Regions from separate parts of the Homo sapiens genome. Here region 2 is linked to region 1. The links come from fine-mapping of genetic effects on gene expression. Tissue or cell type: subcutaneous fat. Region 1 holds a variant in brackets; the other region holds the start of a gene. All regions are shown on one strand. Distances are from middle to middle.

Evidence for each region. PIP is the estimated chance that this variant, and not a neighbour inherited with it, causes the effect.
Region 2: it holds the start of OSGIN2, and the variant in region 1 is fine-mapped to the expression of OSGIN2 in subcutaneous fat (GTEx, PIP 0.92).

What each region holds. Positions count from the first base shown.
Region 1 is chr8:89,878,554-89,882,950 of GRCh38, reverse strand. No RefSeq gene overlaps it. Among named protein-coding and RNA genes, the nearest start is that of OSGIN2, 22 kb to the left of the region's middle. The variant T/A (reference allele first, on the strand shown) is at 1,865.
Region 2 is chr8:89,899,932-89,904,328 of GRCh38, reverse strand. It overlaps OSGIN2 (oxidative stress induced growth inhibitor family member 2), which reads right to left and starts at 1,759. Exons shown (of 6, transcript NM_001126111.3): 1 at 1,492-1,759. The coding sequence starts at 1,535. It overlaps LOC124901974 (a long non-coding RNA gene), which reads left to right and starts at 1,923. Exons shown (of 2, transcript XR_007061001.1): 1 at 1,923-2,310. It also overlaps the pseudogene RNU6-925P. RefSeq lists silencers at 135-194, 1,188-1,637, 1,668-2,007, 1,757-2,055 and enhancers at 2,349-3,114, 3,115-3,880.

The DNA.
Region 1 (4,397 bases):
AATACTTTCTTACAGTGATTCACTTATTTCCTTAAACAGATTATAATCTCCAACTGTAAATTCTTCTCCAGCAGGGGGTTGATTTGGGCATTCTTGTTATGTACTCAGGATATGGAATCTGAACCACAGTGTAGTTTCACATTTGCCTCTGCCTAGGCTGATGGATTTTGCCATACCTGGACCAGTTACAATGCAAACATCTCAGTTTAGGATCATTCCACAGTTACCTGCAGGCGGAGGTGCTGGCTTCCAGTGGGTGACTTCTTTTCCACCTAATATTTTAGACAGAGGGCAAAGCTTCCTTACAGTTTCCTAGGCAGGGTCAGTGGCTGAGCTTCTTTCATTTCATGGGATGATCAGCCCCTTACGACTCCTGGTTGTATGCAGGGAATTTAGTTTGGAGATTTTCCTGTCAATTTCAAGCTTGACATTACAACCAAATCTTCCATTATTATATTTGATCCATGTGTTTGTATTGGGAGGAAGGGGTCTTTCTAATATCAGCTTGTGTTGACATGTTAACCTACAATTCATTGATTTATTTAATATTTGTAAGTCTTTCTAATCTTTCATTATATTATTGTTTCTTAGGAGTTCTGATTGGATTTATTAATCATTTCCTTATCACTATAATAACATTTACTTGTATCATGGATACAAAGGTGATGATAAGTAAAGAATTTTTCGTTTTCCCCACCCCCCTTGAAATAGTTGGCTCAGTTTAGTCTAATAATATTATGTGGTTTCTAAATGACCATCATTCCTCGGGCACAGTAAAATTATTTTTTTTCCAAAAGGTTCAAGCCAGAACTTTGAACTTGAATTCACTGCTGGTATGCATAATACTTAATACCTTTATTATTATTTGGCATCTAGTTAACAGCCAATGAAACCACTTTAGCAGAAGCATTTACATTTAATTATTCATTACTCAGAGTCAGAATTCCATTCCATAAGAGTAGGACTAGCAAAAGCCAAGAAAGTTCTAGATAGGCTGAACTATTAGGAAAACCAATACATTTGACACTGACACATGGAACAAAGCAGGCCTATTTTTAAATCTGAATTAAGTAAAAGTGGACAGTAGAGTTTTGGCTTTCAATAGAAGCCTAGTTACCAGAATTGGGACACAAGGTGGACAAAGCCACGCTTGAGCTAAGTTTAGACATACATGTCACGGCCACAAGTTACATGAGTCCAGTTAGTTAAATATTCTTAGAGAAGTGGTATAGCCCATTGGAACTGATTCATTGTCTTACACTCTCTCGTCAGTCCCCTACTTATTCATTCCTTTAGATATGCATTCTTTCCTTCCAGTATGGCCCTCTGGTTATTCCATTCAGATGCTATAGACCAAGGCAGAGCACTCAGGACTGCCAAGGAAACTTGGTGTAAAGGCAGCACGTAGCAAGAAGTCTCCATTACTATAACTTGTCTTTCTGGGAACAGTTCTGATGGCTGCTTCCCCTAGCTCCTCAGCTTCTTTAGTTCCAACTTTTCCCTGGTGACCATGATCCAGTTTCTTCCTATTTTAGATTTCTGTCTGGGACACTCCTATAGCTATGGCCAACCCATCCTAATGGGCTTTATTTGTTCTACAAATTTCTTAAATTGAAGGGTGACCTATAAACTCTATGTAATTCATTTACATAGAAATGTGTTATGCTTCTTAGCTTCATCTTATGAAGATATATTTTAGTGCCAAAACCTGGAGTAAAATAGCGTTAAAACTTTATTAACTCTATTTTTTATTTTTGTCTTGAGACAGAGTCTTGCTCTGTCACCCAGGCTGGAATGCAGTGGTGCAATCTCGGCTCACTGCAACCTCCGCCTCTTGGGGTCAAGCAATTCTCCTGCCTCAGCC[T/A]CCCAAGTAACTGGGATTACAGGCGCATGCCATCACGCCCAGCTAATTTTTGTATTTTTGGTGGAGATGGGGTTTCACCATGTTGGCCAGGCTGGTCTCGAACTCCTGACCTCAAGTGATCTGCCCACTTTGGCCTCCCAAAGTGCTAGGATTATAGGCGTGAACCACTGCACTTGGCCTATTAACTCTATTGACAGAAGAAAATATTATGTTCTTTTTCCCTCAATAGTCTTTTGATTACTTGGAAAGTATCGAATTTCTGAGTGTCTATACAGTCACTACTCTGACTTTAATAATGTGTTAACCTGAACATTGAAAGAGAAACTGTAAATCTAATGCAAACATGCAGAAATTACACAGAATCACATGTAGATCTTACTTGTCCTATGTATGTAAATCACAGTCTCTGGAAAATTCGAAAGGATGTCACTGTTCCCTGTCTTTGATGTCCTAGCCTACCTGTACAGGTTAGGATTCTTTGACAATATGCCAACTCGTGCTCGTTGAACAAATATTTTCTTTTCTGTTTATCTCAGTGTCTACCTGCTTATCTTATTCTGCCCAAATCCAGTTGTAGAAGTTATACCCTTCACCAAAAATACAAGCCCTATGCCTTAGCATACTCTACAAGGTATGTAGTCTATTTTAACAATGGCTTACCCCCTTACACAACCTTCCAGCAACCCTGAAATCCTAGTAGTTACATCAATACACCAAGCTATTTCTTGTCTTGAGCCTTTGTGCCAGGCATCCTCTTTCCCAGGAATGCCCTTCTTTTTATTATGAGATAGAATTCCATTATATGAACTGCCACAACCCATTTACCAGTTAAAGGACATTGGAGTTGTTTCCAGTTTGGGGCTCTCATAAATACAAATTTTAAAAACTAAACATTTGTATACAGGTCTTTGGGTAAACATATATGTTGTTTTATTTGAGGAAATTCCTAAGGGTGGGAATGCTGAGTTATCACCCGAGAGTATGTTTACCATATAAGAAACTTCCAAACTCTTTTCCAAAGTGTCAGTATCATTTTCCATCCTCACATGCAATACATGATAGTTTCAGTCACTCAGTATCCTCACCAACACTTAATGTTAGTCAGTCTTTTGATTTTAGACATTCTGGTGATATGTAGTGACATCTCATTGTGGTTTTAATTTGCTTTTCATGAATTATTAATATTGTTGAGCATCTTTTTGTTTTGTTTTGTTTTTGAGATGGATCTCACTCTGTCACCTGGGCTGGAGTGCAGTGGTGCGATCTTGGCTCACTGCAGCCTCCACCTCCAGGGTTCAGGTGATTCTCCTGCCTCAGCCTCCAGAGTAGCTGGGATTACAGGCGCCCACCACTACGCCCAGCTAATTTTTTCAATTTTTAGTAGAGACGGCGTTTCACCATGTTGGCCAGGCTGGTCTCGAACTCCTGAGCTGGTGATTCACCCGCCTTGGCCTCCAAGAATGCTGGGATTACAGGCATAAGCCACCACGCCTGGCCGAGCATCTTTTTATGTGTTTATTTGCAATTCATATATCTTCTTTAGTGAAGTGGGTATTCAAATCTTTTGCCCATTATTGGGTTGTTTGTTTTTTATTGTCTTGTTTTTTTGTTTGTTTGTTTTTGTTTGTTTTTTTTGAGACAGGATCTTACTCTGTTGCCCAGGCTACACAGTAGCCTCAAACTCCTAGGCTCAAGTGATCCTCCTGCCTCAGCCTCTTGAGTAGCTAGGACTATAGGCACACACCAATATGCCTGGCTAATTTTTTTTTAAAAATGTTTGTAGAGACAGAGTCTCACTGCATTACCCAGGCTGGTCTAGAACACTTGGCCTCAAATGATCTTCCTGCCTTGGCCTCCCAAAGCATTGGGATTACAGGTGTGAGCCACTGACCTGGCCAGTTTAGCAATTCTTGAAAAATGAATTTTATTAGGAAGAGACATTGTGGGTTTATCAAACATCTGGAGTGGTTTTTTTTTTTTTTTTTTTTTTTTTTTTTAGACAGCGTCTCACTCTGTTGCCAGGCTGGAGTGCTATGGCACCATCTCCGCTCACTGCAACCTCCGCCTCCCAGGTTCAAGCAATTCCCCTGCCTCAGCCTCCCAGGTAGCTGGGATTATAGGCGTGCACCACCACGCCCAGCTAATTTTTGTACTTTTAGTAGAGACAGGGTTTCACCATGTTGGCCAGGATGGTCTCAGTCTCTTGACCTTGTGATCCACCCACCTCAGCCTCCCAAAGTGCTGGGATTACAGGCGTGAGCTACCATGCCCAGCCTGGAATGTTTTTAAAAACATTTATTCTCTATAATTTTCAAACATGTTTAAGCTAATAACCCTCTTCCATTAAAATATATTTAAATTTCTACTTTAGAAGTAATATATGGTCATTACAGAAAATTAAGAAAAAGGGTATATATTTCTGTAAAAAAAAAAAAGAAAAGAAAATGAGTCCAGATGTGATGGCTCATACCTGTAATTCCAGCACTTTGGGAGGCCAGGGTGGGTGGATCACTGGAGGTCAGGAGTTCGAGAG
Region 2 (4,397 bases), 21 kb before region 1:
ATATGAATCCTACACTGTGCATCAAAAGGTGTCAAATAGCTTTCACACAATATTTTCTGAAAGGCATGTTAGATTCTCATGGGCTTTATTTAGTTTAACAAGTTTCACTAGGGGAACCTATTTCCTAAAAGTTTCCATAGTGAATCTGATACCTTCAAACCGCTGTCTCAGTAGTCAACAAATTTGCCTAAAAGTTAAAATCAAGCAGTTTATTATATGAAACAATTTTTCCTTAATATCCACAACCTAGAGACTCATTCTAAACTCACTGAGAGGTTAGACAAGCTTGGATTATCGCTGTTACAAAAGAAGTTCCAAACTTTCTCTATGCCTTACATCTCTTTTACTATAGGATGACGCTTCTTAACCTCTTCTCTGAATACTGTTCTTAAATATACACAGGATTTACAAGAAAACTAATTCTATTAAAACAGTCATAAAAAGTAAACGCGATATATATATGTGCTTCTCTGTTGCATTCAATAAATTCAGTGATGTGTTACTATAATTTTGAATAAGTATAAACAGTATTTCTATATTAACTGCAATGTGATATAAACATATTTTATGATCTCTACTGATGACAGTCACAGATACTACTGTGATTTGTTGCTTATATTTTAACTGAATATTAGTTTTTAAAATTTAGTGAAATGATATACCTTTCTTTCCATCCAAGTTCATGGGTTACCTAAATTGTATGAAACCCACTATTTAGGAAGGCTTGATCAAAATTTCATATTTTACCAGGGAAGAAGTCTTACATAGAATTATTCTGGAACATCAGTATATGTAAAGCAAGGTACTAAAGTATTCCCTATGCTTAACCATTCTTCACCCCAGGGTTAAAATCAGTTTCTAGTGTCTGGTCTTTCCACCAATGACTGAGGTGTTGACCAAATGTGCTAGATCTAGAAAACATACTTTTATTTTAGAAATGTATTATATTTTATCACCCCTAAAACCTTTCCCCATAAGGTGATTGTAAAACCGCCTCATTCTTTAAATTTCTACAACACACACGTCTTACCATGGCTAACATCTTAACAAGGCAGAATCTATTTGTGATTAGATGACACTGAAATGTAGTTCCCTACCTTCCTTCCACTCATTACATTATTTAGAAGACTTTTTAAGAAATAATTTTTTTTTAGGGAGGCAGGCACTTCGTAGAACCCCCTTCACTAAAACTTTGCACTACTGGGAAGTCTCAGCTCGCCGTAACCGACTCAGTCCGGCCTAGCCGATCCCGCAGTCCCGTGACCCGCGCGGTCCAGAGCGAGAAAAGGGAACAGCGCAGGGCTCCCCGGAGCAAGGACCCCACCACACCGCACCCCACCCCACCCCCACGCCAGGCAGGACGGCCGAGGCGGGAGGACGCTGCGGTCCAGGCGCTCGCCCTCCACCCCGGTCCCGGCCCGGGCCAGGCCAAAAAGCTCGAGAGCGCGGCATCCCCGCCTGCTCCCCTCCCATCCCCGGCGAGGAAGTCACCTGAAATGACCGGCCAGGGAGCAGCGGCAGCACCACACGGGCATGGAGCGCTGCGCGAGGGGCGCCCGAGCGCGGCCGCCGTGGCCGCCTCCGCCTCCCCCGGCGAGGCTGCCCGCTCGGGGCGCCCGCTGGCTCGGGGTCGCGGGGTCTGCCGGGCGCCCCTGCCTCGCGCCTCGCCGTTGCCGCGGCTGCCCCGGCTCTGTGGCGCCGGAGTCCGCCTCCAGATAGCGGCTTCCGCTCCTCGCCTGCAGGGAGCCAGGCGCCGGAGGCGGGTGATCTCGGGGCGCCGCGATAGGGGCGGAGCGGGGCGGGGACGCTGCGACGGCGGCTGCAGCGGCGCGCGGGCCCCTCCTCGCAGGTGCGGCTGCGGCGGGCGAAGTCTGCGATTGGTGGAGCCACGGCCCGGGCGAGGGGCCGGGCCTGATGGAGCCGAGGCTGCGCGGGCAGGGGACCGAGGTCTGCAGGCAAACTGCGCGGCTCGACCGGCGGCAATCGAGACCTAGACCTCGGTCAGCGCCCCGCCGCCCCTCTGCGTGCGACTTGGTGAGGCCGGTGGGTGCGCGTCGAGAGGGCCGAGGGACGAGCGGAAGAGAAGCTGCTGCGAACTCGGGCCACCCAGATGGCCCGGCGGAGTTCCCTGCGTAAGGCGCGGCCTCGGCCACTTCGCCGAGGACCCCGGGAAGGGTCGAGCTTCCCACGCCTGAGAACCCACCTTTGGGCATTTCCTCGCGCTGCCGGGGTGCAGACGCCGGGAGCTTCCGGGTGCCTCTCCCGCTGACCCCCGCATCACAGTTACCTGGAGGACTCACCAAACCACAGGTGCCCGGGACCCGCCCACCACGCTTCTTTTATGGAAGTCCCGCTTCCGGGAAGAGGTCATCCTCCCCTCTTCATGTCTCTCAAACACCCACAAGTGTAGGAATTACCAGCACGCCGGGTGAAAATCCAGGTGCTCATCAGGCCCGCCCCAGACCACACCGGCCAGTGTGGGGAAGGGCAGGAACCCCTGCTGCTTTTTAAGCCCCTGCGGGCGTTTGTGATGCAATAGGGAGTTAGAAAAGTACTCAATAGTGAGTGTCGTTATTCGGTTTGTCAAAAATTAAAGGTGGGGAGGACAAAAATCAGGAGAGATTGATTGCATCTACTTTTCTACGGAAATGTCTAACTCCGCTTCCAAAAAAAGCCGTAATTATTTTTGTGCTTCAAATATACGTTTATGTTTATATCTTTCAACATAATTTTGTAAAACAAATGTTAAGTTTTACTGAATGTTGTCACTGAACAAACTTGTGATGAGCAGGTATTTTAGAGTCTTGGGGTCTTAAAAGAAAATCATAGGACTCAGACTGCCCCAGAGTTATGCAATCTAAGAGTATATTAACCACTTTTAAGTATTATATGTTTTTCTCTTTTTTGAGCTTTTGTCGATTTGACACGTTCATTTCATTTGAATGTTGGTTCTGAAAATGAAGCATGTAGTTACTTTTCCGTTAACATACATAACAGCATTTTAAAGTACCTAAATTCCTTTTGGAAGGCCGAGGCGGACGGATCACCTGAGGTCAGAAGTTCCAGACCAGCCTGACCAACATGGTGAAACCCGTTTCTACTAAAAATACAAAACCTAGCCCCGGGCGTGGTGGCACGCGCCTGTAATCCCAGCTACTCAAGAGCCTGATGCAGGAGAATCGCTTGAAACCGGGAGGCGGAGGTTGCAGTGAGCTGAGATCGCGCCACTGCACTCAGCCTGGGCCAAAGAGTGAGACTCCGTATCAAAAAATAATAATAAAGTACCTGGCCGGGCGCGGTGGCTCACGCTTGTTATCCCAGCACTTTGGGAGGCCGAGACGGGCAGATCACGAGGTCAGGAGATCGAGACCATGGTGAATGGCGTGAACCCGGGAGGCGGAGCTTGCAGTGAGCTAAGATCGCGCCACTGCACTCCAGCCTGGGCGACAGAGCGAGACTCCGTCTCAAAAATAAATAAATAAAGTACCTACATTCCTAAAAGCAGTGCTTAATTCTGCAGCACATATACTAAAATTAGAATAATATAAAGATTAGCATGGCCCCTTCCCAAGGATAACACGCAAATTCGTGAAGCGTTCCGTATTTTTAAATATATACACCTACTATGTAACCAAAAAAATTAAAAATAAACATATAAATTCCTGAAAGCTATGCCAGTCCAATCCAGATAATTCTTTTAATTTTTAATTTTTATTTTTTGTGAGTACATGGTATATATATTTATGGGGTACATGAGATTTTGATACAGGCATACAATAAGTAATAATCACATCAGGGTACATGGAGTATCCATCACCTCAAATATTTATCCTTTCTTTGTGCTACAAACAATCTAATTATACTTAGTTATTTTAAAATGTTCAATGAATTATCGTTGACTAGTCACTCTCGTGCTGTCAAATACTAGATCTAATTCTGTCTATACTTTTGTACCTATTAACCATCCCCACTCTGCCCCTTAATTCCCCACTACCCTGCCCAGCCTTGTAACCATCATTCTATTCTCTGTTAGTTCCGTTGTTTTAATTTTTAGCTCCCACAAATAAGTGAGAACATGCAGAGTTTGTCATTCTGTACCTGGCCTATTTCACTTAAAGTAGTGACATCAGTTGCATCCATTTTGTTGAAAATAACAGGATCTCATTCATTTTTATGGCTGAATGCTACTACGTTGTGTACATAAACCACATTTTCTTTATTTGTCTATTGATGGACACTTAGGTTGTTTCCAAATCTTGGCTGTTGTGAACAGTGCTGCAATAAACATGGGAGTGCAAGTATATCTTAGGATATACTGATTTCCTTTCTTTGGGGTATATACCTATCAGTGGCATTGCTGGATCATGTGGTAGCTCTATTTTTAGCTTTTTGAGGAA